7 linked regions of the Homo sapiens genome follow. The protein of the gene in region 3 interacts with the protein of the main gene of each other region in a biochemical or structural test. Each region holds a gene or a part of one and is shown on either strand. Other genes may lie near its edges.

What was found.
Region 1: the proteins of SH3BP2 (region 3) and ABL1 interact in a biophysical measurement, tested with the Homo sapiens proteins (one large-scale study listed by IntAct).
Region 2: the proteins of SH3BP2 (region 3) and PLCG1 form a complex in vitro, tested with the Homo sapiens proteins (2 studies listed by BioGRID, with this or other methods).
Region 4: the proteins of SH3BP2 (region 3) and YWHAQ form a complex in vitro, tested with the Homo sapiens proteins (one study listed by IntAct).
Region 5: the proteins of SH3BP2 (region 3) and TRPV4 interact in a test that uses a peptide from one of them, tested with the Homo sapiens proteins (one large-scale study listed by BioGRID).
Region 6: the proteins of SH3BP2 (region 3) and ERBB4 form a complex in vitro, tested with the Homo sapiens proteins (one large-scale study listed by BioGRID).
Region 7: the proteins of SH3BP2 (region 3) and MET form a complex in vitro, tested with the Homo sapiens proteins (one large-scale study listed by BioGRID and IntAct).

What each region holds. Positions count from the first base shown.
Region 1 is NC_000009.12:130,883,754-130,887,874, forward strand, and holds the end of ABL1 (tyrosine-protein kinase ABL1), read left to right. Parts: intron 1-215; coding exon 216-1,930; 3' UTR 1,931-3,922; downstream 3,923-4,121. UniProt on the Homo sapiens protein: Non-receptor tyrosine-protein kinase that plays a role in many key processes linked to cell growth and survival such as cytoskeleton remodeling in response to extracellular stimuli, cell motility and adhesion, receptor endocytosis, autophagy, DNA damage response and apoptosis.
Region 2 is NC_000020.11:41,161,192-41,165,312, forward strand, and holds part of PLCG1 (1-phosphatidylinositol 4,5-bisphosphate phosphodiesterase gamma-1), read left to right. Parts: intron 1-1,260; coding exon 1,261-1,345; intron 1,346-1,450; coding exon 1,451-1,534; intron 1,535-1,766; coding exon 1,767-1,801; intron 1,802-2,011; coding exon 2,012-2,084; intron 2,085-2,186; coding exon 2,187-2,288; intron 2,289-2,523; coding exon 2,524-2,642; intron 2,643-2,729; coding exon 2,730-2,815; intron 2,816-2,889; coding exon 2,890-3,010; intron 3,011-3,741; coding exon 3,742-3,910; intron 3,911-4,053; coding exon 4,054-4,121. UniProt on the Homo sapiens protein: Mediates the production of the second messenger molecules diacylglycerol (DAG) and inositol 1,4,5-trisphosphate (IP3). Plays an important role in the regulation of intracellular signaling cascades.
Region 3 is NC_000004.12:2,799,422-2,803,542, forward strand, and holds part of SH3BP2 (SH3 domain-binding protein 2), read left to right. Parts: intron 1-4,121. UniProt on the Homo sapiens protein: Binds differentially to the SH3 domains of certain proteins of signal transduction pathways. Binds to phosphatidylinositols; linking the hemopoietic tyrosine kinase fes to the cytoplasmic membrane in a phosphorylation dependent mechanism.
Region 4 is NC_000002.12:9,620,377-9,624,497, reverse strand, and holds part of YWHAQ (14-3-3 protein theta), read left to right. Parts: intron 1-4,121. UniProt on the Homo sapiens protein: Adapter protein implicated in the regulation of a large spectrum of both general and specialized signaling pathways. Binds to a large number of partners, usually by recognition of a phosphoserine or phosphothreonine motif.
Region 5 is NC_000012.12:109,826,493-109,830,613, forward strand, and holds part of TRPV4 (transient receptor potential cation channel subfamily V member 4), read right to left. Parts: intron 1,111-4,121; exon of another isoform or gene 318-1,110; intron 1-317. UniProt on the Homo sapiens protein: Non-selective calcium permeant cation channel involved in osmotic sensitivity and mechanosensitivity. Activation by exposure to hypotonicity within the physiological range exhibits an outward rectification.
Region 6 is NC_000002.12:211,418,830-211,422,950, forward strand, and holds part of ERBB4 (receptor tyrosine-protein kinase erbB-4 isoform JM-a/CYT-1 precursor), read right to left. Parts: intron 3,276-4,121; coding exon 3,178-3,275; intron 1,783-3,177; coding exon 1,612-1,782; intron 1-1,611. UniProt on the Homo sapiens protein: Tyrosine-protein kinase that plays an essential role as cell surface receptor for neuregulins and EGF family members and regulates development of the heart, the central nervous system and the mammary gland, gene transcription, cell proliferation, differentiation, migration and apoptosis.
Region 7 is NC_000007.14:116,755,659-116,759,779, forward strand, and holds part of MET (hepatocyte growth factor receptor isoform b preproprotein), read left to right. Parts: intron 1-1,778; coding exon 1,779-1,881; intron 1,882-1,979; coding exon 1,980-2,116; intron 2,117-2,800; coding exon 2,801-2,962; intron 2,963-3,678; coding exon of another isoform or gene 3,679-3,732; coding exon 3,733-3,832; intron 3,833-4,121. UniProt on the Homo sapiens protein: Receptor tyrosine kinase that transduces signals from the extracellular matrix into the cytoplasm by binding to hepatocyte growth factor/HGF ligand. Regulates many physiological processes including proliferation, scattering, morphogenesis and survival.

The sequences.
Region 1 (4,121 bases), on a different chromosome or scaffold from region 3:
GGGGAAGGGACAATGGGCCATTATGCACAGGAGATAAGAAGGGATGACCTTTGACAATTTTTTTGTTTGTTTGTTTGTTTGTTTTGAGATGGAGTCTCACTCTGTCTCCTGGGCTGGAGTGCAGCAGTGGCACTCTGCCTCCCGGGTTCAAGCGATTCTCCTCTGTCAGCCTCTAGAGTTGTCTGGAGTTGTCAGCTCTTCCCCTTGCGTTTCAGATCCTCTGGACCATGAGCCTGCCGTGTCTCCATTGCTCCCTCGAAAAGAGCGAGGTCCCCCGGAGGGCGGCCTGAATGAAGATGAGCGCCTTCTCCCCAAAGACAAAAAGACCAACTTGTTCAGCGCCTTGATCAAGAAGAAGAAGAAGACAGCCCCAACCCCTCCCAAACGCAGCAGCTCCTTCCGGGAGATGGACGGCCAGCCGGAGCGCAGAGGGGCCGGCGAGGAAGAGGGCCGAGACATCAGCAACGGGGCACTGGCTTTCACCCCCTTGGACACAGCTGACCCAGCCAAGTCCCCAAAGCCCAGCAATGGGGCTGGGGTCCCCAATGGAGCCCTCCGGGAGTCCGGGGGCTCAGGCTTCCGGTCTCCCCACCTGTGGAAGAAGTCCAGCACGCTGACCAGCAGCCGCCTAGCCACCGGCGAGGAGGAGGGCGGTGGCAGCTCCAGCAAGCGCTTCCTGCGCTCTTGCTCCGCCTCCTGCGTTCCCCATGGGGCCAAGGACACGGAGTGGAGGTCAGTCACGCTGCCTCGGGACTTGCAGTCCACGGGAAGACAGTTTGACTCGTCCACATTTGGAGGGCACAAAAGTGAGAAGCCGGCTCTGCCTCGGAAGAGGGCAGGGGAGAACAGGTCTGACCAGGTGACCCGAGGCACAGTAACGCCTCCCCCCAGGCTGGTGAAAAAGAATGAGGAAGCTGCTGATGAGGTCTTCAAAGACATCATGGAGTCCAGCCCGGGCTCCAGCCCGCCCAACCTGACTCCAAAACCCCTCCGGCGGCAGGTCACCGTGGCCCCTGCCTCGGGCCTCCCCCACAAGGAAGAAGCTGGAAAGGGCAGTGCCTTAGGGACCCCTGCTGCAGCTGAGCCAGTGACCCCCACCAGCAAAGCAGGCTCAGGTGCACCAGGGGGCACCAGCAAGGGCCCCGCCGAGGAGTCCAGAGTGAGGAGGCACAAGCACTCCTCTGAGTCGCCAGGGAGGGACAAGGGGAAATTGTCCAGGCTCAAACCTGCCCCGCCGCCCCCACCAGCAGCCTCTGCAGGGAAGGCTGGAGGAAAGCCCTCGCAGAGCCCGAGCCAGGAGGCGGCCGGGGAGGCAGTCCTGGGCGCAAAGACAAAAGCCACGAGTCTGGTTGATGCTGTGAACAGTGACGCTGCCAAGCCCAGCCAGCCGGGAGAGGGCCTCAAAAAGCCCGTGCTCCCGGCCACTCCAAAGCCACAGTCCGCCAAGCCGTCGGGGACCCCCATCAGCCCAGCCCCCGTTCCCTCCACGTTGCCATCAGCATCCTCGGCCCTGGCAGGGGACCAGCCGTCTTCCACCGCCTTCATCCCTCTCATATCAACCCGAGTGTCTCTTCGGAAAACCCGCCAGCCTCCAGAGCGGATCGCCAGCGGCGCCATCACCAAGGGCGTGGTCCTGGACAGCACCGAGGCGCTGTGCCTCGCCATCTCTAGGAACTCCGAGCAGATGGCCAGCCACAGCGCAGTGCTGGAGGCCGGCAAAAACCTCTACACGTTCTGCGTGAGCTATGTGGATTCCATCCAGCAAATGAGGAACAAGTTTGCCTTCCGAGAGGCCATCAACAAACTGGAGAATAATCTCCGGGAGCTTCAGATCTGCCCGGCGACAGCAGGCAGTGGTCCAGCGGCCACTCAGGACTTCAGCAAGCTCCTCAGTTCGGTGAAGGAAATCAGTGACATAGTGCAGAGGTAGCAGCAGTCAGGGGTCAGGTGTCAGGCCCGTCGGAGCTGCCTGCAGCACATGCGGGCTCGCCCATACCCGTGACAGTGGCTGACAAGGGACTAGTGAGTCAGCACCTTGGCCCAGGAGCTCTGCGCCAGGCAGAGCTGAGGGCCCTGTGGAGTCCAGCTCTACTACCTACGTTTGCACCGCCTGCCCTCCCGCACCTTCCTCCTCCCCGCTCCGTCTCTGTCCTCGAATTTTATCTGTGGAGTTCCTGCTCCGTGGACTGCAGTCGGCATGCCAGGACCCGCCAGCCCCGCTCCCACCTAGTGCCCCAGACTGAGCTCTCCAGGCCAGGTGGGAACGGCTGATGTGGACTGTCTTTTTCATTTTTTTCTCTCTGGAGCCCCTCCTCCCCCGGCTGGGCCTCCTTCTTCCACTTCTCCAAGAATGGAAGCCTGAACTGAGGCCTTGTGTGTCAGGCCCTCTGCCTGCACTCCCTGGCCTTGCCCGTCGTGTGCTGAAGACATGTTTCAAGAACCGCATTTCGGGAAGGGCATGCACGGGCATGCACACGGCTGGTCACTCTGCCCTCTGCTGCTGCCCGGGGTGGGGTGCACTCGCCATTTCCTCACGTGCAGGACAGCTCTTGATTTGGGTGGAAAACAGGGTGCTAAAGCCAACCAGCCTTTGGGTCCTGGGCAGGTGGGAGCTGAAAAGGATCGAGGCATGGGGCATGTCCTTTCCATCTGTCCACATCCCCAGAGCCCAGCTCTTGCTCTCTTGTGACGTGCACTGTGAATCCTGGCAAGAAAGCTTGAGTCTCAAGGGTGGCAGGTCACTGTCACTGCCGACATCCCTCCCCCAGCAGAATGGAGGCAGGGGACAAGGGAGGCAGTGGCTAGTGGGGTGAACAGCTGGTGCCAAATAGCCCCAGACTGGGCCCAGGCAGGTCTGCAAGGGCCCAGAGTGAACCGTCCTTTCACACATCTGGGTGCCCTGAAAGGGCCCTTCCCCTCCCCCACTCCTCTAAGACAAAGTAGATTCTTACAAGGCCCTTTCCTTTGGAACAAGACAGCCTTCACTTTTCTGAGTTCTTGAAGCATTTCAAAGCCCTGCCTCTGTGTAGCCGCCCTGAGAGAGAATAGAGCTGCCACTGGGCACCTGCGCACAGGTGGGAGGAAAGGGCCTGGCCAGTCCTGGTCCTGGCTGCACTCTTGAACTGGGCGAATGTCTTATTTAATTACCGTGAGTGACATAGCCTCATGTTCTGTGGGGGTCATCAGGGAGGGTTAGGAAAACCACAAACGGAGCCCCTGAAAGCCTCACGTATTTCACAGAGCACGCCTGCCATCTTCTCCCCGAGGCTGCCCCAGGCCGGAGCCCAGATACGGGGGCTGTGACTCTGGGCAGGGACCCGGGGTCTCCTGGACCTTGACAGAGCAGCTAACTCCGAGAGCAGTGGGCAGGTGGCCGCCCCTGAGGCTTCACGCCGGGAGAAGCCACCTTCCCACCCCTTCATACCGCCTCGTGCCAGCAGCCTCGCACAGGCCCTAGCTTTACGCTCATCACCTAAACTTGTACTTTATTTTTCTGATAGAAATGGTTTCCTCTGGATCGTTTTATGCGGTTCTTACAGCACATCACCTCTTTGCCCCCGACGGCTGTGACGCAGCCGGAGGGAGGCACTAGTCACCGACAGCGGCCTTGAAGACAGAGCAAAGCGCCCACCCAGGTCCCCCGACTGCCTGTCTCCATGAGGTACTGGTCCCTTCCTTTTGTTAACGTGATGTGCCACTATATTTTACACGTATCTCTTGGTATGCATCTTTTATAGACGCTCTTTTCTAAGTGGCGTGTGCATAGCGTCCTGCCCTGCCCCCTCGGGGGCCTGTGGTGGCTCCCCCTCTGCTTCTCGGGGTCCAGTGCATTTTGTTTCTGTATATGATTCTCTGTGGTTTTTTTTGAATCCAAATCTGTCCTCTGTAGTATTTTTTAAATAAATCAGTGTTTACATTAGAATTCTTGGCAGATTGCTTCGGCCTGTGATCCTGCCCTGTTGTTCTGAGCCTGTGCGGTGGCGGGGCCGGGATGTAGTGGGTTCTGGTTTCCCGACGGGGCTGGGGCCCGGCATCAGGTCTTACAGAGCAGAACGGTGGCAGGTTGCCCCCAGCTGCCCAGGGCCTCTGCGGCCTGGGTGCCCACAGCCATCTTTCAGGCA
Region 2 (4,121 bases), on a different chromosome or scaffold from region 3:
GTAAGAGGAGAACCCCCAGAGTGTTGAGTTCTGGCAGCCCAAGGAAGAAGACAGTGGTGAAATCTGACCGTTGACCCTTGGATTTAACATGGTGAGAAGAGCGGTGTCACCCTAGCGGTGAGGGGCTCAAGGGAATGAGAGGGAGCAAGATGACTCTTGCAAGGAGTTTTGCTATGGAGGGGAGCAAAGAAGAGGGCAGTAGCTGGAGAGCTAAGCAGGGGCAAGACAGGTGTTTTTGGTGGAAGAAGTAACAAGCTGTTCGTATGCTGATGGGAAAGAGACCACAGAGGGCAAGATCGGTGATGCAGGCAGTTGCAACCAGAAGGCCTCTGTTTCCTCACTGGAAAACAAGGACCCTGATAGCACCTACCTCCTGGGTGACTGAGGATCAGAGGAGGGGGCGCCTATATAGAGCCAGCCCTCCCTCCGCAGTGCTTGATCCACTCAGTGTGGCGCTCAGCCCCCTCGGGGAATTTTGGTGCCTCCTCCCAGGCTCTTGGGGCCCAGAGGAGGTGGTCCCACCCTCCCCTCCCCTCCTTGACACCACCTTCCAGGAGAGAAAGCCCCCCCCTTCCCCCTTCTTGTCCATCCTGTTGCCAGGTCCAGCAGTGTCCCCAGCCTCACATCCTGGGCAGGACACCCCTGGAGAGCAGGGGCGCTTGTTCTCTCAGTTTCTTTCCTGGAGCCAGGCCCTGTCTAGCCCCAGGAGGTGCCCAGTTGCCAGTCATTGTATTTGGTGGAGCATGCACCTCCTCCTTCCTCCCTCTCATGGGTTAGTGGGTTCTGAGGACCAAACTCCCAGCATCCCAGTGGGCAGCAGGTAGGGACCTGCTGCCATGCTGCCCCCAACAGGGAAGTTGTGAGTGAGCCCTGCCTTCTGTCTTGGATAGGCTGACTGCCACCTTGGCACAGGCCTCAGCAGTGCCGGTAGGAGGGGAGGCCTGGAGTGTGGTTTTTCTTCCTCCCATGCCTGACCCACTTTACTGAATCTGTTCACATCTTCCTTGCCAGAATTACAGGTTTTTTTTGTTTGTTTTGTTTTTGTTTTTTTTTTTTTTTTTTTTGCTCAGATGAGGAACTGAGGTCCAAAGAAAGGAAGGGACTAACCTCACCCCATGGGTTCTGATCCAGTCTTGCCCTCAGGCCTCCAGGTTCCCAGAATAGTGTTGTTTACCTGTCCAGCCCCAGGTGGGCTCGACCCACAGGTCAGAGGTCATGAGAAGCTGGATGAGACCACTGGGGATGTCCCTGTTTTCTCAGTATATCAGCCAAGGACCTGAAGAACATGCTGTCCCAGGTCAACTACCGGGTCCCCAACATGCGCTTCCTCCGAGAGCGGCTGACGGTAAGTGCCACCCAGGGCTGTCTGTAGATGGGGGCAGGGGAAGCCAAGAGCCCTTCAGCTGGGGGCCTGACTGCCTGACTGGCACTCCTGCTCTATACCATGCAGGACCTGGAGCAGCGCAGCGGGGACATCACCTACGGGCAGTTTGCTCAGCTGTACCGCAGCCTCATGTACAGCGCCCAGAAGACGGTGCATGAGCCACCTGCCCTCCCTCAACCCCTGCCCCTGCTCTTCCACCCCACACCCCAGCTCTGCCTGCCTCAGCCCTGCTGCCCTGCTTAGGGGCTTTTGGGTGCCATTTCTCCAGTTCTTCTCCTCTTGAGGCCTGCCCCCATCTGCTGCTCTAGCCTGCCTTCTTACTAGCCCATTTCCCACATGGCCTCCCAGGGGTCTTGCCCTGACCAGGTTCTGTTTCCTGCAGATGGACCTCCCCTTCTTGGAAGCCAGTACTCTGAGGTTTGGTTTGGAGTGGGGAGGTGGGGTTTTCCCTGGGCCCCCTTCATCTCTCCACTGGGCGATTCTTGATCCAGGTGGGAGGCAGTGGGAGTAGGGAACCATGCTGGACCATTCTGGGAAGCTGTGCTGGCTGGGAGTTGGGTTCTGCCTTCCGTGGGGCACCTTGTTGTCTGTTGACCATACTAGCTAGCTTACCTTCTCTCCCTGCAGGGCTGGGGAGCGGCCGGAGCTTTGCCGAGTGTCCCTTCCTGAGTTCCAGCAGTTCCTTCTTGACTACCAGGGGGTATGGCTGGGCTGACATTGGCCCAGGCTGGTAGGTTGTGGGGGGCTGGGCTCATCCCTGACTGGAGGCTTCTCTCATCCCCTGCCCTCCCTACCCCATCAGGAGCTGTGGGCTGTTGATCGCCTCCAGGTGCAGGAGTTCATGCTCAGCTTCCTCCGAGACCCCTTACGAGAGATCGAGGAGCCATACTTCTTCCTGGATGAGGTGAGCCCGATGTTTCACCCATTTTTTGTCAAGAGAATGAGTAGGGGTGACCAGGACCCCACCCGGGCTCCAGGAGCTAGACGCTCCTTAGGGATGCCACCTTGTTTCTACCTACTGTGCACCTTGCCCACCCCCAGTTGGGACAGAGCACTCTCTCTCCTACCCCCAACCTACCATCTTGGGTTGGACAGGGCAGGGACTCACTGTCTCTTCCCTTCCACATGTTTCTGGACAGTTTGTCACCTTCCTGTTCTCCAAAGAGAACAGTGTGTGGAACTCGCAGCTGGATGCAGTATGCCCGGACACCATGAACAACCCTCTTTCCCACTACTGGATCTCCTCCTCGCACAACACGTGAGTGTGGCTCCTTCAGGCCCACCCAGCTTCTTCCCCAGGAGGGCCCATCTGACCATACCTACCTGCCTCTCCTTGCCTATCCAGGTACCTGACCGGGGACCAGTTCTCCAGTGAGTCCTCCTTGGAAGCCTATGCTCGCTGCCTGCGGATGGGCTGTCGCTGCATTGAGTGTGCGTGGGGTCCAGGGCTGGGGGAGGGAAGATGGGAGGCCTGCCCGCTTGACCATGGTGATGTTGCTCCCCAGTGGACTGCTGGGACGGCCCGGATGGGATGCCAGTTATTTACCATGGGCACACCCTTACCACCAAGATCAAGTTCTCAGATGTCCTGCACACCATCAAGGAGCATGCCTTTGTGGCCTCAGAGTGAGTCGGAGGCTGGATGACCCAGGGGTTAACTTGGCTCCAGGTCTCTCGTTCTAGAGGGACAGAGGGCAGAAAGACTCCTCAAATGCCCTGTCCCCTCTCCCTCAGCCTTTCATCTTTGTCCTTCCTCTTGGCCTCTCCTCGTCACCTGCTCCCTGCTTGAGCTGTTGCTTCCCAAGTTACACTTTCTGTTTCCTACGTGTTGGGCCCACTCTCTTCTTCATGGGTCCTTTAGACTGTAGAACACATGCTCTTCTCATCTTCAGAAAACATGCCCTGGTTTCTTTAGGCCAGTGTCCTGCCAACTCCTTTGCCCTCACAGCCCAGAAGATTGTCTCTGTTCCCTGTGTCCCATTCCTTCAATTCTGTTTACTGCTTAAACTGTGGTCACTGGTCTCCCTTAGCTCACCAGGGCTCTAACAGCTAACTTTGGAGGCTTCTCCTCTCTCCTGGCCTCTTTGGTGTGAAACATTTTTCTTGCACTGCTGAGCAGCCTCCATAATTGGGCCAGCTCGGGACTGCATCAGTTGCCACCCTTTGGTTTCCACTGCTGCCACAGCTGTAGAACCCCTCTCTGCCCCACCAGTGGCTATGGCCTGCCTCTTTTCTGGGATAGTTTTTACAGACAAGAAGCCCCCAGGCCCTTGGCTTCCAACAGCTCACTGTGAGGGGCTACTTAGACCCAGAGAATTGCAGAATCTGTTTCACTGTGCTTGTCCCCCATCCCGCAGGTACCCAGTCATCCTGTCCATTGAGGACCACTGCAGCATTGCCCAGCAGAGAAACATGGCCCAATACTTCAAGAAGGTGCTGGGGGACACACTCCTCACCAAGCCCGTGGAGATCTCTGCCGACGGGCTCCCCTCACCCAACCAGCTTAAGAGGAAGATCCTCATCAAGGTGGGGTGGCGGGCTTATTGCGGAAGCCCCACACTTCTCAGTGCCTTGCCCAGGCCATGGCTTCAGCTGTTGGGCCTAAACCTGGGTGAGGAGGTGGGGTGAGGACTGGGGTCTGCATTGCCCTGTTCTGGTTGCCCCTACAGCACAAGAAGCTGGCTGAGGGCAGTGCCTACGAGGAGGTGCCTACATCCATGATGTACTCTGAGAACGA
Region 3 (4,121 bases):
GGCTCTCTGAGATCAACCTTCCCATTTTCTTGAGGATGTGACCAGGAGGGTGATGTTTTGTGGTCGGGGTGGCTGTGCCTGCCTCTGGGGCAGGAAGTTGCTGGGGAAGGAAGAAGATTGAGAAAGGACCCCCAACCCCCACCTCTGCAGAGGATCTAGCGGGCCTTGCCCCATGCCAGGGTTCCTGCCGGCTGGCATCAAGGGGACAGCTATTCCAGGGCTGGTGTCCTGAGAAGCAGGGGGGACCCACTTGGGACCCAGGCCCCCTCGAAGACCTACCCAGAGCCACCCTTGCGGCAGGCAGGGTCCTGGCCCTTCCAGTACGAAGCTGGGAAAAGGCAGCACCAAAGATGCCAGGGGCGCCTCACGGATCCCCCCGGGGGGGCCTCCTTGAGGGGGAGCAGGAGGAGGGGCCAGGCTGAGGGCTCAGGCTGTGTGAAAGACACCCTGGTTTTGAAAAGGGAGAGGGGCTAGAGAGGTGGGGCCCGAGGGCCTGGTGGGGCTTCCAGCAGGGGCTGGCTTATGTTTTCAAGCTTACTCTGGGGTCTGGAGACCACTGCCGAACATACGCCCTCCAAGCAGTGGCCACAAGAAGACCATGAGGAGCTCGGGCGGGGTCTGGGGAAAGGGTGGGGGCTGCCACAGACAGAAGTGGGTTCGTCGAGGCTGCAGAAGGCTGGGTGGGAGTGGAGGAGGTGACGTGACCAGGATGGGGTCGGTGACCCCTGCACAGGGGCTACAGGGGATGAAAGGGGAGGGAGCAGCAGACTGCTGAGATTGGGGTGGCATTGGCCCTGGTGGGACTGACTGTCCCCGGCTCAGTCTCCCTCCTCCTTGGCTGGCTTTTCTGGCAGACAGTGGCATGGTCCAGAGCTGCCTCCCTGGGGAGGGAAAGGGCATCCCCAAGTCACTCCTGAGGCTGTGTCCCCAGAGTGTCCACCGGGCTGTGCCACCTCCCTGTCTGATGCAGCCTGCCCCTGCCTGAGCTGCCCGAGCCTGCCCCGTGGCTGCTTCCCAGCCAGGAGGAGGCCCTAGGGGCAGACACCGGCGGGCTTGCTTACAGGCCCTGCTGACTCCAGAGTCTTACTGCCACCCGAGCAGTACGTGGAGGTGCTTGTCCTGTGACCGCCCCCCCCCCGGGCTGATGACGGGCCAGGTGGCACTTCACCTGGGGGCTCTGGGGAGGCTGTCTCGGGCTCCCGTGCCAGGGGTGGGTGCAGGGAGGCTGGGCAGGCAGGAGAGCTCAGGCCTCGGCTCCCACGGGTCTGGGGCTGTGGTGGTTGGGGACCCTAACTAGAGCCATTCACCCCTCTGAGGAAGGACCTGGCCTGGAGCGCCATCCCCAGGGAGCAGTAAGGGCATTGGGGGTGTCTTGGGGTGACCTGGCCGGGGGCAGAAGGCCAGGCGGGAGTTTGCAGGTGGGGAACGGCTGGAGGAACTCGTGGAACAGCCTGAGAGGTGTCCGGCGAGGTAGGGCATGGGTGGCCTTGAGCCCTGAGGCTGAGCGGAGCTGTCTTTGAGAGCCACCTCTGCTGAGGCTGCAGCAGAAAGGCTGTGACAGGCTGGCTCCGAGGGAGGAAGGAGCTGGGCTGTGGGCGGCCTGGCCTTGGGAAGGGGGCTGGACAGTTGCATGGTTGGGGGCGGAGAGGAGGAGACCCTGATCCAGACTCCACCCCTGCCTGTCTTGACCGCGGAGGACCGGGGCCCAGACTGCAGGGGTGCAGAGAGGCTGCGGCAGAGGCTGGGGGCTGGGCTCCTTTCCCGGCAGGCCGGGCCCACCGCCAGACCCTTGTCCTCACTGGGCCTCTCTGAACAGTGGAGCGTTGTGAGGGGCCTGGGAACGTTCAGGTCACCCAGGCCCCCTCTGGGCCACGCTGAGGGTGAGGACAGGAGCCAGCGGGCATGAGTCATCCTGTCCCCTGCCCGGGCCCCGAGGCTCTGGGGTTCCCAGGCTGAGGAGGAACACACAGCTCTCGGTTCCCCAACCCGGGGTCTGGCCCACTCCTTCTTCCTTCTTTTTGCCTCTCTGTCAGCACCTCTTCCTGTTGCCTCCCTCTTGCTCCTGGGCCTGCCTGCATCTCCCTTCCCCTGTCCGGCCAGAGACCCCGGCCTGGGAGTGGCTGTGGCCTGCTCTCCCACCCCGATGCCTGCTGCAGCCCCAGCAGAGGGGCTGGCCTGTCGCCTTGAGCCCACCTGTGCTGGCCTGTGAGTGGCCCCAGGAGGAAGCCAGCGCAAGGACAAGACCCAGCCTAGACAGGAAACCTCCTGAGGCCAACCTAAAATTTACTAAGGAATAAAAAATGACAAGAAGCAGAAGGCAAGGGAATAGAATAATAAACCCAGAGAGTAAAAACGAACAACATCCGGGAAAAAAACCCATGTTAGAAAACAGTTTAAAAATATTAGCCAGGCGTGGTGGCTCATGCCTGTAATCCCAGCACTTTGGGAGGCCAAGGCGGGTGGATTAGTTGAGGTCAGGAGTTCAAGACCAGCCTGACCACCGTGGTGAAACCCCGGCTCTACTAAAAATACAAAAATAAGCCAGGCATGTTGGCGCATGCTTGTAATCCCAGCTACTCGGGAGGCTGAGACGTGAGAATTGCTTGAAACTGGGAGGCAGAGGTTGGAGTGAGCAAAGATTGTGCCACTGCACTCCAGCCTGGGTGACAGAGAGACCTGATCTCAAAAAAAAAGGGGCCGGGCGCAGTGGCTCACACTTGTAATCCCAGCACTTTGGGAGGCCGAGGCCGGCAGATCACCTGAGGTCAGGAGTTCAAGACCAGCCTGGCCAACATAGTGAAACCCTGTCTCTACTAAAAATACAAATTAGCTGGGTGTGGTGGTATGACCTGTAATCCCAGCTATAGGAGGCTGAGGCAGGAGAAGTGCTTGAACCAAGGAGACAGAGGTTGCAATGAGCCAAGATCGTGCCACTGCATTCTAGCCTGGGCACCAAAGTGAGACTCTGTCTCAAAAAAATATATGTGTGTGTGTGTGTGTGTGTGTGTGTGTGTGTGTGTGTATGTATATATGTGTGTGTATATATGTGTATGTGTATATATATGTGTATATGTATATATATGTTTGTATATATGTGTATATATATATGTATGTGTGTGTGTGTATATATATGTGTATATATGTATATATGTGTATATGTATATATATGTTTGTATATATGTGTATATATGTGTATATATGTGTATGTATGTGGTGTGTGTATATATATATGTATATGTGTGTGTGTGTGTGTATATATATATGTATATATGTATGTATGTATATCTATATACACACACACACGTAACGTTAGGGAAAAAGGATCACAGCGAATGCATTAAGGCAGCAGAAAGACCTAACCCTCAAGTGCTGAAATGAGTGGACAGAGGGAAGGGACCCTGTTGTGCTGACTCAGCCTTGGTGGGTCCCAGCCTGTGGCACCCGCTGACAGATGGTGACAGGGTTCCTGGGTAAGCGAGGGGCCCAAGGACCCTCAGTGGTGCACAGAGGAGCCATGATGGGGGCCACGCCTGGGCCCCAGCGTCCTTTGCCCTGACCCAGGAGCTTGTCCAGATAAAACGCCGTAAAGTGCCTGGGCTGAGCCCGAGGTGTGTGCAGGAGCTGCATGGTTTTGTGCGGTCCAAGGGAGGCCGCCAAGACCGCCACGGTACGAAAAGTACCACGGTGATGAGTGAAAGGGACAGGCGGCGCAGGGCTCTCAGGCCACTTACTGCTATACGGTCCCAAGGCCCACCCTGTAGGGCTTACACAGCTGCCTACACAGGGTGCCCATCGTGGTGGCTCCTGACCTCTGCCGTTGGCTCTGGGTGGGAGCAGTGGGGCTGGGTTTCTCTGACTGGCGCCCCTACTGCATGCCACCCCAGCAGGAGCCCCAGGGCCTCGGCATCTCCACTCTGTTCCCTTGTTATCTCGCCCTGGTGCTGGGATCCGGGATAAGCAGGGTGCTGTCCACTTCCAGGGCCTAGGGACCCAGTGCTGGGCCAAGTGCCTATGGCAGAGTGCTTGGGAGCTGTCTGGTTTGGTCCTCAGAGTCCTGTTGCTAATAAGCGTGGAGGGGGAGGACGGAGCAAGGCTCAGGGAGTGAAGTGACTTGCCCCTAG
Region 4 (4,121 bases), on a different chromosome or scaffold from region 3:
GCCTTGGATTAGTCCATAAATAAAATGAGCTGTATTAAGTTGTATTGGATTGTGTCATGCTGTCCTTTGGCTTCTTCCTAACGTGTTGATATCTTACCTGAACCTCTTGTCTAGCTAGACTTGTCATTTTTCCCCTTGTCATTATTGTGTGTATGCTGTTCAAACTCTACAGTTCACCTTACTGAAACTTATTCAGTGGGTCCTATTTTTTGTTTGGTTTGATTTGATTTGTTTTTATTTTTGAGACAGAGTCTGGCTCTGTGGCCTAGGCTGGAGTGCAGTTGCGCCATCTGGGCTCACTGCAACCTCCACCTCCCGGGCTCGAGCCATCCTCCCACCTCAGCATCCGGAGTAGCTGGGACTACAGGCACTTGCCACTATGCCTGGCTAATTTTTGTATTTTTTGTAGAGATGAAGTTTTGCCATGTTGCCCAGGCTGGTCTTGAACTCCTGAGCTCAAGCAATCCACCCAGAGTGCTGAGATTACAGGCGTGAACCACTGTGTCTGGCCGGGTCCTATATTTTCAAAGTGCCACTTCTTCATAGTTGTCTCCAAAGCCCTGAGCTCTTTTAAAGACTTCGCACAGACTGCAATTATATTGAAATCTATTAGATGCAGTGAAAATTGATGAACGGCAAATCTCCTCCCCTCCTTCATAGTAGCTTGGCATATGTGGTTCAGACTTTTTAAATTTAATTTTATTTATTTATTTATTTATTTTGTTGAGACAGAGTTTTGCTCTTGTTGCCCAGGCTAGAGTGCAGTGGCGCAATCTTGGTTCACCTCAACCTCTGCCTCCGGGTTCAAGCAATTCTCCTGTGTCAGCCTCACAAGTAGTTGGGATTACAGGCATGCACCACCACACCCGGCTAATTTTGTATTTTTAGTAGAGACGAGGTTTCTCCGTGTTGGTCAGGTTGGTCTCAAACTCCCGACCTCAGGTGATCCTCCCGCCTCGGCTTCCCAAAGTGCTGGGATTATAGGCGTGAGCCACTGCACCCGGCCGTGGTTCAGACTTTTAATGCAGTGGTGAACACTGTCAACAATTTTTCTCCAAACAACCCCTGGGAAGAAGATCGTTGTTGCATGCTTTATGCTAGGATTTACTTAAGTTCTCGAAGTGGAATTTCCAAATCAAAAGATGTGCGGTTTTTTCCAGATAGCCTTCTGAAAAGGTATGTGTATACACTGTCATCAGCAGTGGTTGAGAAGGTCATTCATTTCCCCTAACCCTTTCCAGCACAAGCAAGTTTTTAAGGCTAACAAAAATCTGGTGACCAGAAGGTTTAACGTCTTATCTCCTTGTTCAGTATTGGATGTATGAGGACCACCTCCCTTCTCACAAAGGACTGCTTAAGAAAACTAGTATTTTTAAGTCTCATGTAGTTTCATTTAGAACATGATACCATAGCATGGGATTAGTTCAGTCAAGGTGTTGCTTTGGCAGTTGGGAAATCTGGTTGGCTATGGTAATGTTCTCTATTTTTATCATTAAGACCAGTTTTTGTATTTAACACTAATCCTTTCCAAATGGCAACAGAAAACGTATCTGAATTCATACCACTGACTTTCTGGATATCAGGGAGGTGGTAGAGAGACATCATTTAAAAGATGTGAAGAGAAGCAAAGTTTATCCATTGCTACTTTAATTAAACTCTTAATCCATAGATAAGTCAGTGATAAATATGATAAATTACTAGATTTGAAACTATTGTTTGCATATTGAGTATTTAAAGACAAAATGATGATAATACCTAGGACTTCAGAGTAATTGGGGGAATACAGATGAAACAGGAGTGTCTATGAATTAATATAGTTGCAGCTGGCTTTAATTGGAATTCATTGTACTATTCTTTGTTCTCCTGTGTACCTTTAAAATTCCCTATTATAAGTTTTTCCTCCCCTAGAAATTCCACTCTTAGGTGTTTACGCAAGAGGGAATGATGCATGGGGCCAAGGCGCATAGGTACAAAAATGTTAATAACAGCTTTATTCTAAGAGCAGAAAACTAGAAATAATCCACTAGTAGGAAAATTGATAAACACTGATGTATTCATAAATGGAATACTATTCAGCATTAAAATGAATGGACCACTGATACTACAATATGATTGAATTTCAAAAACATGCTAGGTGAAAGAAACTTTGCATGAAAAAGTACATAGTGTATGTGATTCCATTTATATGAAATTTTAGAACAAACACAACCTGTTTATGGTAGGAAAAAAAATCAGGAATAATGGCCTCTGTGGGAGAATAGGCAGAGATTGGGAAGGGGCAGGCTTCTGGGATAATTGTATTTTTTTTTTTTTTTAATACTTTAAGTTCTGGGATACAAGTGCAGGACGTGCAGGTTTCTTTCATAGGTATACATGTGCCATGGTGGTTTGCTGCACCCATCAGCCCGTCATCTACATTAGGTATTTCTCCAATGCTATTCCTCCCCTAGCCCCCGACGCCCTGACAGTCCCCGCTGTGTGATGTTCCCCTCCTTGTGTCCATGTGTTCTCATTGTTCAACTCCCACTTGTAAGTGAAAACATGCGGTGCTTGGTTTTCTGTTCCTGTGTTAGTTTGCTGAGAATGATGGTTTCCAGCTTCATCTATGTCCTTGCAAAGGACATGAACTCATCCTTTTTATGGTTGCATAGTATTCCATGGTGTATATATGCCACATTTTCTTGATCCAGTTTATCGTTGATGGGCATTTGGGTTGGTTCCAAGTCTTTGCTATTGTGAATAGTGCTGCAATAAACGTATGTGTGCATGTGTCTTTATAGTAGAATGGATAATTGTATTCTTTAGTTGATATGGGTTTGGGTTTTATACATTTGTCAAAACTCAGCAAATGTACACCCAAGATTTGTGCATTTTGTATGTAAATTTTGCTTTGAAAAAAAACTAGTGATATGCCTGTACTTATGTCTTCAGCTTGTAACTGCTAGAAATGTATGGGTATCTGAAAAAGCAAGTATGGCAAAAGGTTAATGGTAAGATCCAGGTGGTGGATATGTGGGGGTGTTCACTGTAATTGTTGGTTGCCATGTATTGGGGGTTATGATATTTCACATCACTGGTTGAGTGTCTTTAATACATATAGCAAGAAGATAGTGTGTAGCCTGTGTCTTGTTATCCTCAAGATACGAGAATGTATAGAACGGTATTGATCCCCACTTAGGAGACATCACTGGCACCATCACTTTTTTGTTTGGGTGATGAGTGCTAAGTAGATTGATGGAGTTACCAGATGCTGTGTAAGACGTCTTAATTGGCCATACTCTGGGACAGTGGTTCACAAATTTGATCTCAGGACCCCTTTTTAGAAAATAAAATAACTTTAACAAAAAATTGAATGAGAATAGCGGCATTGCATTTCATTCAACCTATTGTAGTATTCCACCTCCTGTAGCTTCTGGAAAACTCCACTTGTGAGAAAATGACAGTGGAAAAAAAGCAAATATCTTAGACTTATGAAAGTGGTTTTACTTTGTCTCCTCTCCACCCCACAAAGGATATAGGGGAGACCTCTAGGGGTTCCCAGACTATACTTTGCCCTATGAGAATTTAATTACTGAAGTTAATAGTAGAACTGCTGTTCTACGAGAATTTTATTACTGTGTTTGGGTGATTGAGCAGTTTATTTTCTGAGTAGTCATCATATGTGGTGATAATGGAATTTGTAAAACCTTCCCCACCCTTCCCATTTCTCTGCCCCTGCACCCCATCTTATCCCTAGGAATATAGGTTTGAAGACCAGGAAAATCACAGATGTGATAATGAAGAAAGGAGAATAGTTGATATTAGACATTGGGTAATAAAAGTCCCTGTTAATTCCTGGAAACCAGCTAAAGATCTGGTATGTTGGAATGTCTTTCTGCTTTCTTGTGTTGAGAAGGATAATATGAAGTTAATAATCTCTTAACTTGCCCCTCCCAATACCTGACCAAAAAGCAGAGTTGACATCCATGAAAAATATGGATAATGGTCTTTCAGAGCTGGTTGCATTTAAGTTTTAAAAATACACAGCTTTTGGAGGCAGTAAGTCAGGTTAGCTGTTAACCAGCATTGGTCAAAGTATTTATCAGTGAAACTTGTCTTCATACCAACCTTTGATTGTCAGT
Region 5 (4,121 bases), on a different chromosome or scaffold from region 3:
TATTGTTATCATTTCACAGATGAACAAACTGAAGATCAGAAAGAATGAGATTTAACTGAGTCCACAACGCTACAGGAAGTGAATGTGGCTAGACTTCCAACCATCTGCTTTTAAATCCATTTGAGTTCATTCATCCCTTTGGGGGCTACCATGCCCTCTCCCTAGGACCCCCCTTCTCAACGCCATATCCCTTGGAACTCAGCAGGACAAGATGGCACAGTGGTGACAGGCTTGGAGTCTGAATCTTGACTTTGCCATTTAGTAACTGCGTGGCCCCAGACGGATCACTTGACCTCTCCGAGCTTCAGTTTCCTCACCTGTAAAAGGGAGCTCATCACAGTTCCCACTGCTGGATTACTTGTCATTGTGGGTATCAGAGTCTCACAAAGTGGCCTCAAAGCACTGCGTGTGGAATGATGTCACTCGGACAAAAGCTCTAGGGCGGAGGGACTCCCTTCTGGTAACTGCTGAGGCCCAGATGCCTGGAACAGGTCCTGGCACATAGCAGCTGCTCAAGATGTATTTGCTGGATGAATGAATGAATGAATGAATGAACAGAGGAAAGGAGTGAAAGACGGGCTTAGTCATTCTCTCCAGGGCAGACAGGTCTCCAAAGCGAACCTCTGCCCAGCTAACTAATTAGCTTCCTCCCATCCATTTTTTAACAGACAGCTTACGGAGCACCTGCTATGTGTGGGGTTTTCTGGCCTATAAGACCAACACCTCTCATGAGGACAACTATCGTGAGCCCATTTTATAGATGAAGAAATTGAGGCTCAACAAGACCAGGACACTCACTCAAGCACACTTGGTCTCAGAGCCAGAGCCTGTATCTGAGCAGGTGCTTCCTTCTGATGCCCTGCCTGGCTGGCTTGTCCAGTCACTCATTCCTTCCTTCATTCATCCCTTCACTCTATCTACAGGTATTCCTGAGCCCCTCCTGTGTGCCAAGCAGGGACAGGAGTGAGCCAGACCCATGGGTCAGTCAACCCCATGCCCCCTGTCCCACCCTCACCTGCTGGGGTCTCAGCCCAAAGCCCATGGAACCCACCCTCCATAAACACACACACACACACACACTACACACAAATACATATACACATTACACACATATACACATACATACACACAATATACACACATACATACATATACACGCAAACATACACACACATACACACATGCACACATAGACATTCACATACACACATACACATGTATATACATACACATATGCACACACATACACACAGACATACATATACACACATACACACATATATACACAAACATACACATAAACATATAGTCATACATATACACACATACACATATATACACATATACACATACACATATAGACATACATATACACACATACACATACACACACAGACACACATACGCACATACACACGCACATCAATATACACACACATACACACGTACACAAACACACACACAGGGAATGGTCCCAGAAGGTGGCCAGCCCACTCGGTCAACCGGGTGGAACCCAGGCCACTCCACCCTCAGGGGAAAACGGGCGCCTGGTGAGACTGAGGAGCTCTTTGTGCAAGGGGCAGGGTGGGTGGACAAGAGGGGCTGCTGTTACTCACTAACCAAAGAAATAGAAGGATATTCCCGTTTGGTCAATGGCCCGCCTGTCTGTCCCCTGAGCCCCCGCCTCCTTCTGTGGCCTTTCCAATGCCCTGACCTCATCTGGAGACCGGCAAGGGCTTCCTGTGCGCCTGGTGTGGTCTCGTGTGATCCTCCCTCACCGATGAGGAAACATGCTCAGAGAAGTGATGTAACCTCCTTGGGGTCACACAGCCGGCAGTGGCCAGGGCTCGGGGCAGAAAGGGGAAACCAATGCTCAGGAAGGGGCTAGGGGTGGGAAGGAAGTCAGAGTCACATTGAAAGTGAGGCCCTGTCCCTTCCTCATTCCTGTCCGGCCACTGGGGTGCCAGCTCATGGGCTGCAAGGGCACCCGAGGTTGAAGGAGCCCAGGCCAGAACAAGAGCAGCAGCCAGAATAACCCAAATCCCTCCTCAAGTTGGCAGAGCTCTGACCTCAGCAAAGCCCAGGAACAGAGAGCTTAAGCCACTTTCTGAGGTCACAGAGCAGCAACTGGCGGAGCTGGGAGGTAAGCTAAGGTGGCTCAGACGCCAAGGTGGGTGAGCCTAGCGTAGCTTTCCACGCAAGAAGCTAAGCTGGCCACTGGGCTTTTCGTGGACCCAAGGACACCAGTGTCACTCAGATCTGGCTTCCAGCTCCAGCTCTGCCATGAGCCAGCTGGGCATCCCTGGGTAAATTGCTTCCTCTCTGAGTCTCGATTTCCTCAGCTGTAAAATGGGGCTCAGCATTCCTGCCCCTGCCCACCCCCGGCAGTGGGGAAGCTGTGACACCATCAAAATGAACATCAGCCCTCACACCTGTAATCTGAGCACTTTGGGAGGCCAAGGCAGGAGGGTTACTTGAGCTCTGGAATTCCAGACCAACCTGGGCAACATAGTGAGACCCCTGTCTGAAAAAAACCTTTTTTTTTAATAAGCTGGGTGTGTCCCAACTACTTGGGAGGCTGAAGTAGGAGGATCTCTTGAGCCCAGGAGTTCGAGGCTGCTGTGAGCTATGATCACACCACTGCATTCCAGCCTGAGCAACAGACTGAGACCCTGTCTCTAAAAATAATAAATAAAAAAAAAAGTGAACAACAGGCAATAGATGCTGGTTTTAAACTAAACACTCAAGGTTGTGCTGAAGACTGTCCACAACCTCCCAGCAAGGCAGGCATTACCTTATCCCCATTGTCCAGATGAGGAAACTGAGGCCAAAGGAATAATGGAACTTATTGGAAGCTGGGATTTGAACCTGGGCAGCTGGGCTCCAGCCCTAGTTTTTAAGCATTAAATCAGGAAAGTAAAAAAAGTTGACAGCTCCTGGCACTCAGTCAATGCTCATAAATATTTCATTGCTGAAAACATATCATTATTTGCCCAAATGCAAGTCTAGCTTTGCCCCCAATACCTTCCACCCACCCACCTGGCATGGAGGGGCTCTCTGAGGATGTCTGGGGGATAAGCTGGAAGAAAACATGCCCTGGAATGGGCCTGGGGACAAGGGGAGCTGACACGGGCTGAGGCAGAAGAGCTGTGCTTCAGAGCCCCATCCACGTGCCTTGGGTCATCCCTGCAAAGTGGGATGAGAGTCCCTTTGACACAGGAGGAAATGGAAGCCCAGAGAGGCCAGGTGGCTTCCCTGAGCTCCTCCAGCGGGGAATAGCAGGCCTGTCTTAAACATGCGGATGCAGTTTAAGCCCAGGCCTGTCTGCAGTTCAGGCTCTTTGTTTGTTTTGAGACAGGATCTCTTGCTCTGGACTGCAGTGGCACAATCGCAGTTCACTGCAACCTCTCACTCCTGGGCTTAAGCGATCCTCCCACCTCAGCCTCTCAAGTAGCTGGCACTACAGGTGCGTGCTACCACGTTCGGCTAATTTTTGTATTTTTTCTAGAGACAGAGTTTCACCATGTTGCCCAGGCTGGTCTCAAACTCACGGGCTCGACCGATCCACCTGCCTTGGCCTCCCAGAGTGTTGGGATTACAGGTGTGGGCCACTGCACCCGGCCAACTCAGGTTCCTATCTCTGGACTGCAGAGTAGCTCCCCCATGACCCCAGGCACCCCAATGAGGGTCCAGACAAATGGGGACGGGCCACCTTACAGGTGAAGGGATGGATTTGCAATCACACAAATGGGATTCAGGTCCCAGCTCTGCCCCTTCTCAGCTGAGAGAACCCAGGCAAGAGATTTCACCCTCTAGACCTCATTCTGCCCTCTGAAAAATAGAGACAAAAATAGTTTTGTATCCAAATGTGCTGAGGGTGCTTGACTCAGTGCTTGGCACACAGTAAGTGCTCAATAAAGGCTTGCCACCATCATAATAGTTGTTAATGCAACCCAGGGTTGGCTAAAGCCAGACAGAACCTTGTACCCAGAGTTCATAACAGCAGCCACTTATCTCAAGAGATCGGAATTAATCTTTAACAGGTGAATTCTGCTCCAAATGGGCGATGTGGAGCATTCCAGAGGGCCCACTGGCATGAAATAAATGTTATCTTGGCTCCC
Region 6 (4,121 bases), on a different chromosome or scaffold from region 3:
CAAAAGACTGATTATTCATTACCTATCCATTGATCTAATTTTTAAAACTTTTAGTTATCTATTCCCCATTGGGCATGTGATAAAGTTTTCAGTTTGTACTATAATATTTTTTAACAGAAAAGAAAAAATAATTGAGGTCTCCATCTTTGTCTCTTTCCATATCAGATCTTCTAAATGGAGGTAGATGAGTAAAAGGTGTAGAGCAGATTTGAGATGCATTTTATAAGAAAACCACCTGGGAAATTTCCCAAACAAGACAAGTCCCAGACTCTAATCACATCATGGAAATAACATGCTTCAGTAACTTTGAAGCAAACCTACAGTGTAGTAGGCAGATATCTAGATTACATTATTCCTCTCTTCCACTGACTAGCTGTGTGACACCAGTCATATCACCTGACTTCTCTGTGGCAAGTTTCTTCCTTTGAAAGAAGGGGATGATAATAATAGAACCTCATGAAGTTTGTTTAAGGATTAAGGAGGTTAACATATATGTGTTGAATAGTAAACACCAGGGGAATATTACTTATTACAATCAATATGAAATAAAGAAAATTATGTTTGTTAGATAATGAGCAGCAAGTTGAAAATATTCTTATGGCTATGGTCAAGAGAAATCGGATGCTGTCGGTTCTACTAGCTATGATAATGTTCTTAGATTAAGAGAAAAGAATTATCTTCTAGAAAAAATTAAGCATCATGTTTATATCTTATCAATGGAAGAAACTGATTACAGACACAAATTTACTACTTCTTCATGCTCCGTACTGGTCAGTGAATACTGGATTACAGCACTTACTATGCAGTCCCTCTATCTGTATGATTCTTTGATTAAGGTTTTCACTTCTTGAAAGCAGAAGTTGTATCAAAATTCTTTGAGTCTTAAATGTATACTAATGCTTCACATACAGTGGTACTCAATATATGTTGAATGTATGAGGAATGAATTTATAAAAATAAATGCATGGATTTGACAGCTTTCAAAGAAAGAATGGAATTCATATAGAGTAGGTTTAACATTTAAAATGTAAAGTGTTTTCAGAAACTTCCTTCAAAACTTAAATCTACTTCTTAAAAACAAAAATCTACTTCTCAGCAGCCTTTTCGATGTGATTAGGTTCAAAGGACTGCACGGTTTTCTGTGTTTCTACTTCAACTTGACAGAAAATATTTAATTTTTCTTAAATAAGTGAAAGAGATTTATACTTGTATTACTTCTTGACTAATATATCATAATATCTTTTTAAGAAAGAAAAGTAGAAAGCCTACTTGGTAGGAATTTTCATTTATTTATATACACATAATGGTTTTATTAGTTGGAATTGTTTTTTAAAGTTAAGATTTGTTTTAAATAAATTAAGATGAGGAAAATGTTTTGCTTCTGAAATCTTGAAGGTATTTCAGAGTACATGTTGTATTGTCCATGCTTGTCTTCCAAAATTAACTACATATAGCAAGATTGGCACATCTTTTGTGGGTATGGTATATTTTTAATCTAGGCATCACATTGATTTGAGCTATATAATTATTTTGAAATGTTAGTGCTTATGAACTATTACATGATTTTATATCTCAGAAAGAATATGATATGTGTATATAATTATTTCTTACCCTATTCGAGTCAATTCTTGCTCTGGAAGTATAGATGGGAGGTGGGATGTTGAAAGCCTGAGGGACCAAGTACTCCTCAGCATCCATCATATCTTCCAAATCCTCTTCATCCAAGAGATTCTGAAAGAACTTGCTGTCATTTGGACTGGGAAGCTTCATACGATCATCACCCTAAAAGAAAGATTGCCCATCAGACACAAATATGATTCTTTCTTATCTTAAATATGTGGTCTCTGCAATAAATTTATGTAATATCATAACAAATGGTTGAAAAATTCATACACACATTTTAAAAAAACAAGTCTTTAGCACAACCACCGGCCATTAAGAAACCTATAACATGCTTAGAAATGATAGGGCCAGGTAAACAAACTTTATACAAGGAGAATATGATAAATGCCATTAGAGAATAATAAAGCAAAATCAAAAGATGTTTTTAGGGAGGTAAAATCAATTTCAGGTCTGAAAATAATTGTTCATTGCCCAGATAGTGTATGGGTTGCAACTTTAAGAATAAACAATAAAAGGTGATCAATTTATCAACGTTTATTTGGTTGGTTTGATGCTGTAGGATTATCAGGACCATAGGGTCTATACTTTATTCTATAGCATACTGACTGCATTATCAAAGTAGGGGCATTCAAAACTCACAGTGCAAGTGGCAAATAGAGTAAAGGAGTATGAGAAAGACACCAAAACCTTTGTTATGCTCTTCCTCACCTCGTCTATTTCTTAAGTATTTTTCCTATATTTTTAAAGTTACATAATTTTTGGAAACAATTTCAGTTCATGAAAACTAATTTTGGGGAAAAAATAAATGGAAATAAGTATCTTCTAAAACCTAGCTTTTATCTTTATGTCAGACTGTCGATATGAAAATAAAGGCTACCTTGCTTTACTGAGGAAACATAATACACTCTAGTCCAAGGCCCATTTGTTTAGAGTTTAGGTGAAATTAATCCTAGAGAAATATATTATTATTTTTTAATTATCCAAGTCTATCTATTTTTCTAGTGTTAAATATAAAATATTTCTTTGGTTGGTTGATTAAAATGTGCATCAATTCATTTGAATTGAGTTATTGCTTAGATACTGCATATCTCTCCAAATAAAACAAAACATATTTTAAAATATTTTTGGGGAAATTAAATAATATACTGAAACTTTTGATTCACTGTCTTCAAGCATGGGCAAGATTAAAACAAAAATCTGTCTTCCTTTTGTTCCGAAAAAAGAAAATTATACTAATGAACATGACTTACACATAATGTTAATAAAATCAAGGTGCTAAAATAAGTGTCTGAGGATTAAGACCTCTTTATGTATATGTATAATCATAATTATCTGTTCAGTAGCAGAGCCACTTGAATACTAAGGGAAGGTGCTAAAAGGTGGATCTGACGTGAAATAAAAAGCTCTTTTCCATAAGTCATGTCACATGATAATTCTGCTTAATTAATCAACATGTTTGTGGTCCTTTCCACAGTTCCAAAGTCCTGATACTACTCATTTTGCAGTGAGTTTGCCATTGGCCTAGTCTTAAAGGCATAAGTCAAATGTACTCACCTGAATAACTAGGTATCTTTGAGGGTCTCGAGCCATCCTTGAAAACTCAGCAGCCAGTTCCTTAAATTTAGGTCTACTGTCAGCATCAATCATCCAACCTGGAAATTTACACAGTGAAAATGTCACTATATTCGTAACTAGAAAGGAGTTGAAATTTAAATTTTGTGAAAATATGAGCAAAAGTTTGAAAAATGTTGTTTTAATCGTAATGATCTGAGAAAGAAAGCAAGCTAGTGAAAGAAACGACTCAATTGGTAAGGCTTTATCGGTCTCTTTGTTGATATTCATAACTAAATGTAATGTACTGTAAAACAAAAGATAAATTTTTTCTCTGATGTGTATAGACGTGACTGCAATATAAGTTATTATTTTGTATTAGGAGTGACATAGGAGAGAAGATTTGGTTACAATGCTTACACTGGCACAAACGGGAAAAGAGGAATTAAAAGCAACTTTCTTGTGCTACATTTGTCCTGGTGGACAAAAAAAAAAAAAAAAAAACTAATGCAAAGTGATTGGTAATGCCTGTTCAGCAATAGACATTAGCTTATCTTAGTACTAGCTTGTCTAGTATAAAAATACTATCAGCAATTTTCAAGGTATGTATTCTTATTTAGCTGGGAGTCTAGATAAAGCAGACCTTATCTCTACAGGCTCTGTTTAGCTAATGAGATGACAAGAATAAAAGTATCAAGCTTTCCTTGATTTTCTTGCCAAATTATCCTCTTCTTAGGTATTAAAACCCCGAAAGAAAGGTAAAATTCTCCATTAGGGAAAGTGTTTTCTTGGTTTTACATAATTAATTTCATCAGAGCTAAATTCTGATGAGTTTAAATCATTTCCTATGCTAGTTACAGGATTAAATTATATAAGACATGCATGTTTTTAAACTTTCTTCCATAGATGTCTACCAAACAATATTTAATAGAATAAGGCTGTAAAGC
Region 7 (4,121 bases), on a different chromosome or scaffold from region 3:
CTGTTTTGTTCTTGTAATCCCATTTACTCATTGGATTTGAAGAGAGAGAAAGGTGACATGGCCTAGGTGAAGAGAAGAGGCCAGAAATGGGAGTTTCTCAACCATTTATGCGACAAGTCTTCAGGTGTTGTCTGAGTAGATTTGCAAGAGTAGCACTAGTTGGGATCACTTCATCCTTGGAGTCTTCAAATGTAGAGTCTCCAAAGGCTTTTTCTACAGAAATCAGTAAACAGCTCAGCATGGATCCTCTCTTTTAAATTCACTTTCTAAACCTCAGAAATGTAGTGAGGCAGCTGAATCACGTGTTTGAGACTTTTTTAGATGAGTTAAAATTTATATTCAGCTTATATTTACTGGCACTGCAATATATGGGCTGTATCTCACTGAACCATCCCCACGGTCCTGGGAGGGAGCAGTATCATTCCTATAATATAAAAGAGGTACCTGAAGTTCAGAGAGATGAAGTGTGGCTTCACAGAGGTAATCCAGAGAGTAAGAGCTGAACAAGCCTTCAGCTCAGCTCTGATCATCTTCTGATCCAAGACCCGTGCTAGTTCTACTGTATTCTACATGTACCCTTCTACAAGCTTTGAATTCCATAATCATCAGAGAATCCAGAAATTATTCATTATCACATAATAACAACACTCAAATATTTAAAGTTTTATGGTTGAATCTTTATGATTGAACCCATTCTATCAGGTGGTTATTTTATATCTAATAGAATTCATTTCAGGGTTACACAAAGGTCCGAATCTATCCATTTTACTGAGACCAAAACACTAATGAAGGTAATATTTGTTAGCTGAATGGCAAAACAAATTTTTTCTAGAAATCTCCCTTGTAAAATCTCCAAAACTCTTAATCATTGCATATAAATCAGGACCTGTAAAAGTAAAGCATAATTCATTCTCTCCTTTAAAAAGTTATTTAATAAATCAAATTGTATTTAAATTTTCTCAGAACTATATGATTATTCATTCAGAAATAATTCTATGGAAAGCCATCACAATTTCATTATCATTTAAGTAATTTAAATAAGCATGTACAAGTATAACCACAGAAATGTACCTGTTGACATACTTTAATGAAGAGATTGGCCTATTTGTAGTTAGCCCATTGTTTCATATGCATCTGAAGTGGACCAAAGATTATCCCCAAATATTAATATTATCCAAACTTAGATTATTATGCACTATTCAACTGGTGAGGTCTTTATGGATAAGGTCTGATATTTCCTGTTTGTCTGTATAAGTGCTATAGTACCATTAATGTAAAGTTTAGTATAAGCAGGGTGCAGTGGCTTACGCCTGTGATCCCAGCACTTTGGCAGACCAAGGCAGGAGGATCACCTGAGCCCAGGAATTCAAGACCAGCCTGGGCAACGTAGTGAGACTCCATCTCTACCAAAAAAAAAAAAAAATTTTTTTTTAATTAACCAGATGCCGTGGCATGCACCTCTAGTTCCAACTCCTGAGTCCAGAGGATCCCTTGAGCCCAGGAGTTCAAGGCTGCAGTGAGCTATGACTATGCCACTGCCCTCCAGCCTGGGTGACAGAGCAAGATCCTGTCTCTTTTTACATAAAAATAAAAGTTAAGTTTATCATAGTATAGAAATAGGATTATATAATTTTTGGCCTTAATGCTTATCTTGAAACTCTGCTTGCTATTCAAAGCAGTCAGCTCACCATTTAGAGTTAATGTCACTTCCTATAAAACAACCTAACCAGAAAATTCCTTGGATTTGTCATGTATTAAACTTTGGGTTTTTTTTCCAGATTGAAATGCACAGTTGGTCCTGCCATGAATAAGCATTTCAATATGTCCATAATTATTTCAAATGGCCACGGGACAACACAATACAGTACATTCTCCTATGTGGTAAGGAAGATTCTATCCTATCATGTTTGATTTTTACTTAATCTATTTAAATTATAAGATGAACAAGTTACTTTGTTTTGTTTTTATCTCCCCTCCAGGATCCTGTAATAACAAGTATTTCGCCGAAATACGGTCCTATGGCTGGTGGCACTTTACTTACTTTAACTGGAAATTACCTAAACAGTGGGAATTCTAGACACATTTCAATTGGTGGAAAAACATGTACTTTAAAAAGGTGTTGTAAATTTATTTTTTGTTGCATCTGTCAATTTGAATTAATATCTGTACCTTAAAAATTAAGCAGATTGTTTTGTGTGTGTGTGTGGAGAAGAAAAATCAAGATGTTTATTTGTTTACTCTCCTACTGACAAAACTTCCTCCTTCCAAAATTCATCTACTCCTTTTGCTGATTTTTCTTCCTTTCTCTTGTTTTTTAGCAATCCTACTTTTCAGTTTTGTCTTCCCATCCACCCTCTTTATTGTTATAGCTTAGGATCTTAGCTATACTATGAGCTGTGAGAGTCTGGTCATTGATAATAATTTAAAATAAACATTTTCATCAAGATTTGTAATTAGACTAAGTCACTCTGGGGAAGGAAGAAATGGGGAAAATTGGGTCTGGAAGACAGTTATGTTTCTGCTTCTTAGAGTTGGAAGAGCTCAGTTTAATCAAGTACCAAAAGTACTTTAAAGGTTTTTTTTTCAAATCTCAAATGTTTTCCAGTCAAGGATAGCTTGTCCACAACAAAGGTAAGTTTGAGATCCAGTCAGATTAAACAGCCTACACTAGAAAAGGCTTCCACTCAGGAAATTCCCACTTAGGAACCATTGAGTTATATCCTTTTGATTTGTGGATATAATTCTAAAATATGTGTATCTCTAATAGCTAAAATTCACTTCCTTAATTTTTTTTGTTCAGTGTGTCAAACAGTATTCTTGAATGTTATACCCCAGCCCAAACCATTTCAACTGAGTTTGCTGTTAAATTGAAAATTGACTTAGCCAACCGAGAGACAAGCATCTTCAGTTACCGTGAAGATCCCATTGTCTATGAAATTCATCCAACCAAATCTTTTATTAGGTAAGTAGAAGCTTCTGATGGGTATAAGAAAACAATGAATACAAGGATGATTTTGCTGTAGAATAGTCAAGAGGAATTGCAGTTTTATCTCTGGCTTTGATGCTGTTATGTTGCTTTTGAAGGCTTCTTTCCAATTCAGGAGAGAAAACTATATTCAGGTTCTGAGTGTAGTTTGACTTATCAATGCTAGTTCATTCCAAGAAGTATCTTATCCTGTTCTATTACATTTAAACAGAGTATAGCAAAATAGTTTAATGTGGCATTGTAGTATACATGCACTTACATTATGTACATATCAATTCTATACTAACCTTAGTGCCCAGAAGTGGAATTACCTTTTTTCTTCCATTCTCTAGATATGTTTTTGTCCTGCCTGCTTTACACACAGCTTTTCTTTATGCCAGACTCTCTTTGAATTGATATCTCATTGGACCCAGTTCAATCTGCCTTGTTTCCGTTAATTCTATCAGTCTAGCAACAATAGTTAAGTTCGGTTTTCTTTGTATTTTTTTCAGAGGTGAAATATTTATTTTGTGTAATTCGGTGAATAAAATACAAATGCATTTCTTAAGCTTATGAAATATGCATTTTAAAAATATTTTCAAGTTAAATAAGTTGTTTCCAAAGAACAGTTACCCATGAACTTCCATTTGATGTTGACTGTGCCTCTGACCTGTAATCAGTGCAGGTGATTAAATTGAATCCCTCTCTTACAGTACTTGGTGGAAAGAACCTCTCAACATTGTCAGTTTTCTATTTTGCTTTGCCAGTGGTGGGAGCACAATAACAGGTGTTGGGAAAAACCTGAATTCAGTTAGTGTCCCGAGAATGGTCATAAATGTGCATGAAGCAGGAAGGAACTTTACAGTGGTAAGTCCTTTGAGCAATGGTTCTACTCAGAGCTCTGCATCTTTGCCTCTAACCATGTGGCTTTCATGGTACCTGAGACATCTCAGTTTCGCCTTTAAGGTTTGCTAGTTAATTTCCTTGCAGTGTAGCCAAGTAGTATTTTTTATTTAATAACTGAAATTATCTAGAGTCTTGGGCTAACCATGTGGAAAAAATACATACACATACACACATGCACATATAATGTTTAGACAAGAATGAAGATTACCAATTTGAGACAGTGTTTTTTTATGTTTGTTGGTTGGTTGGT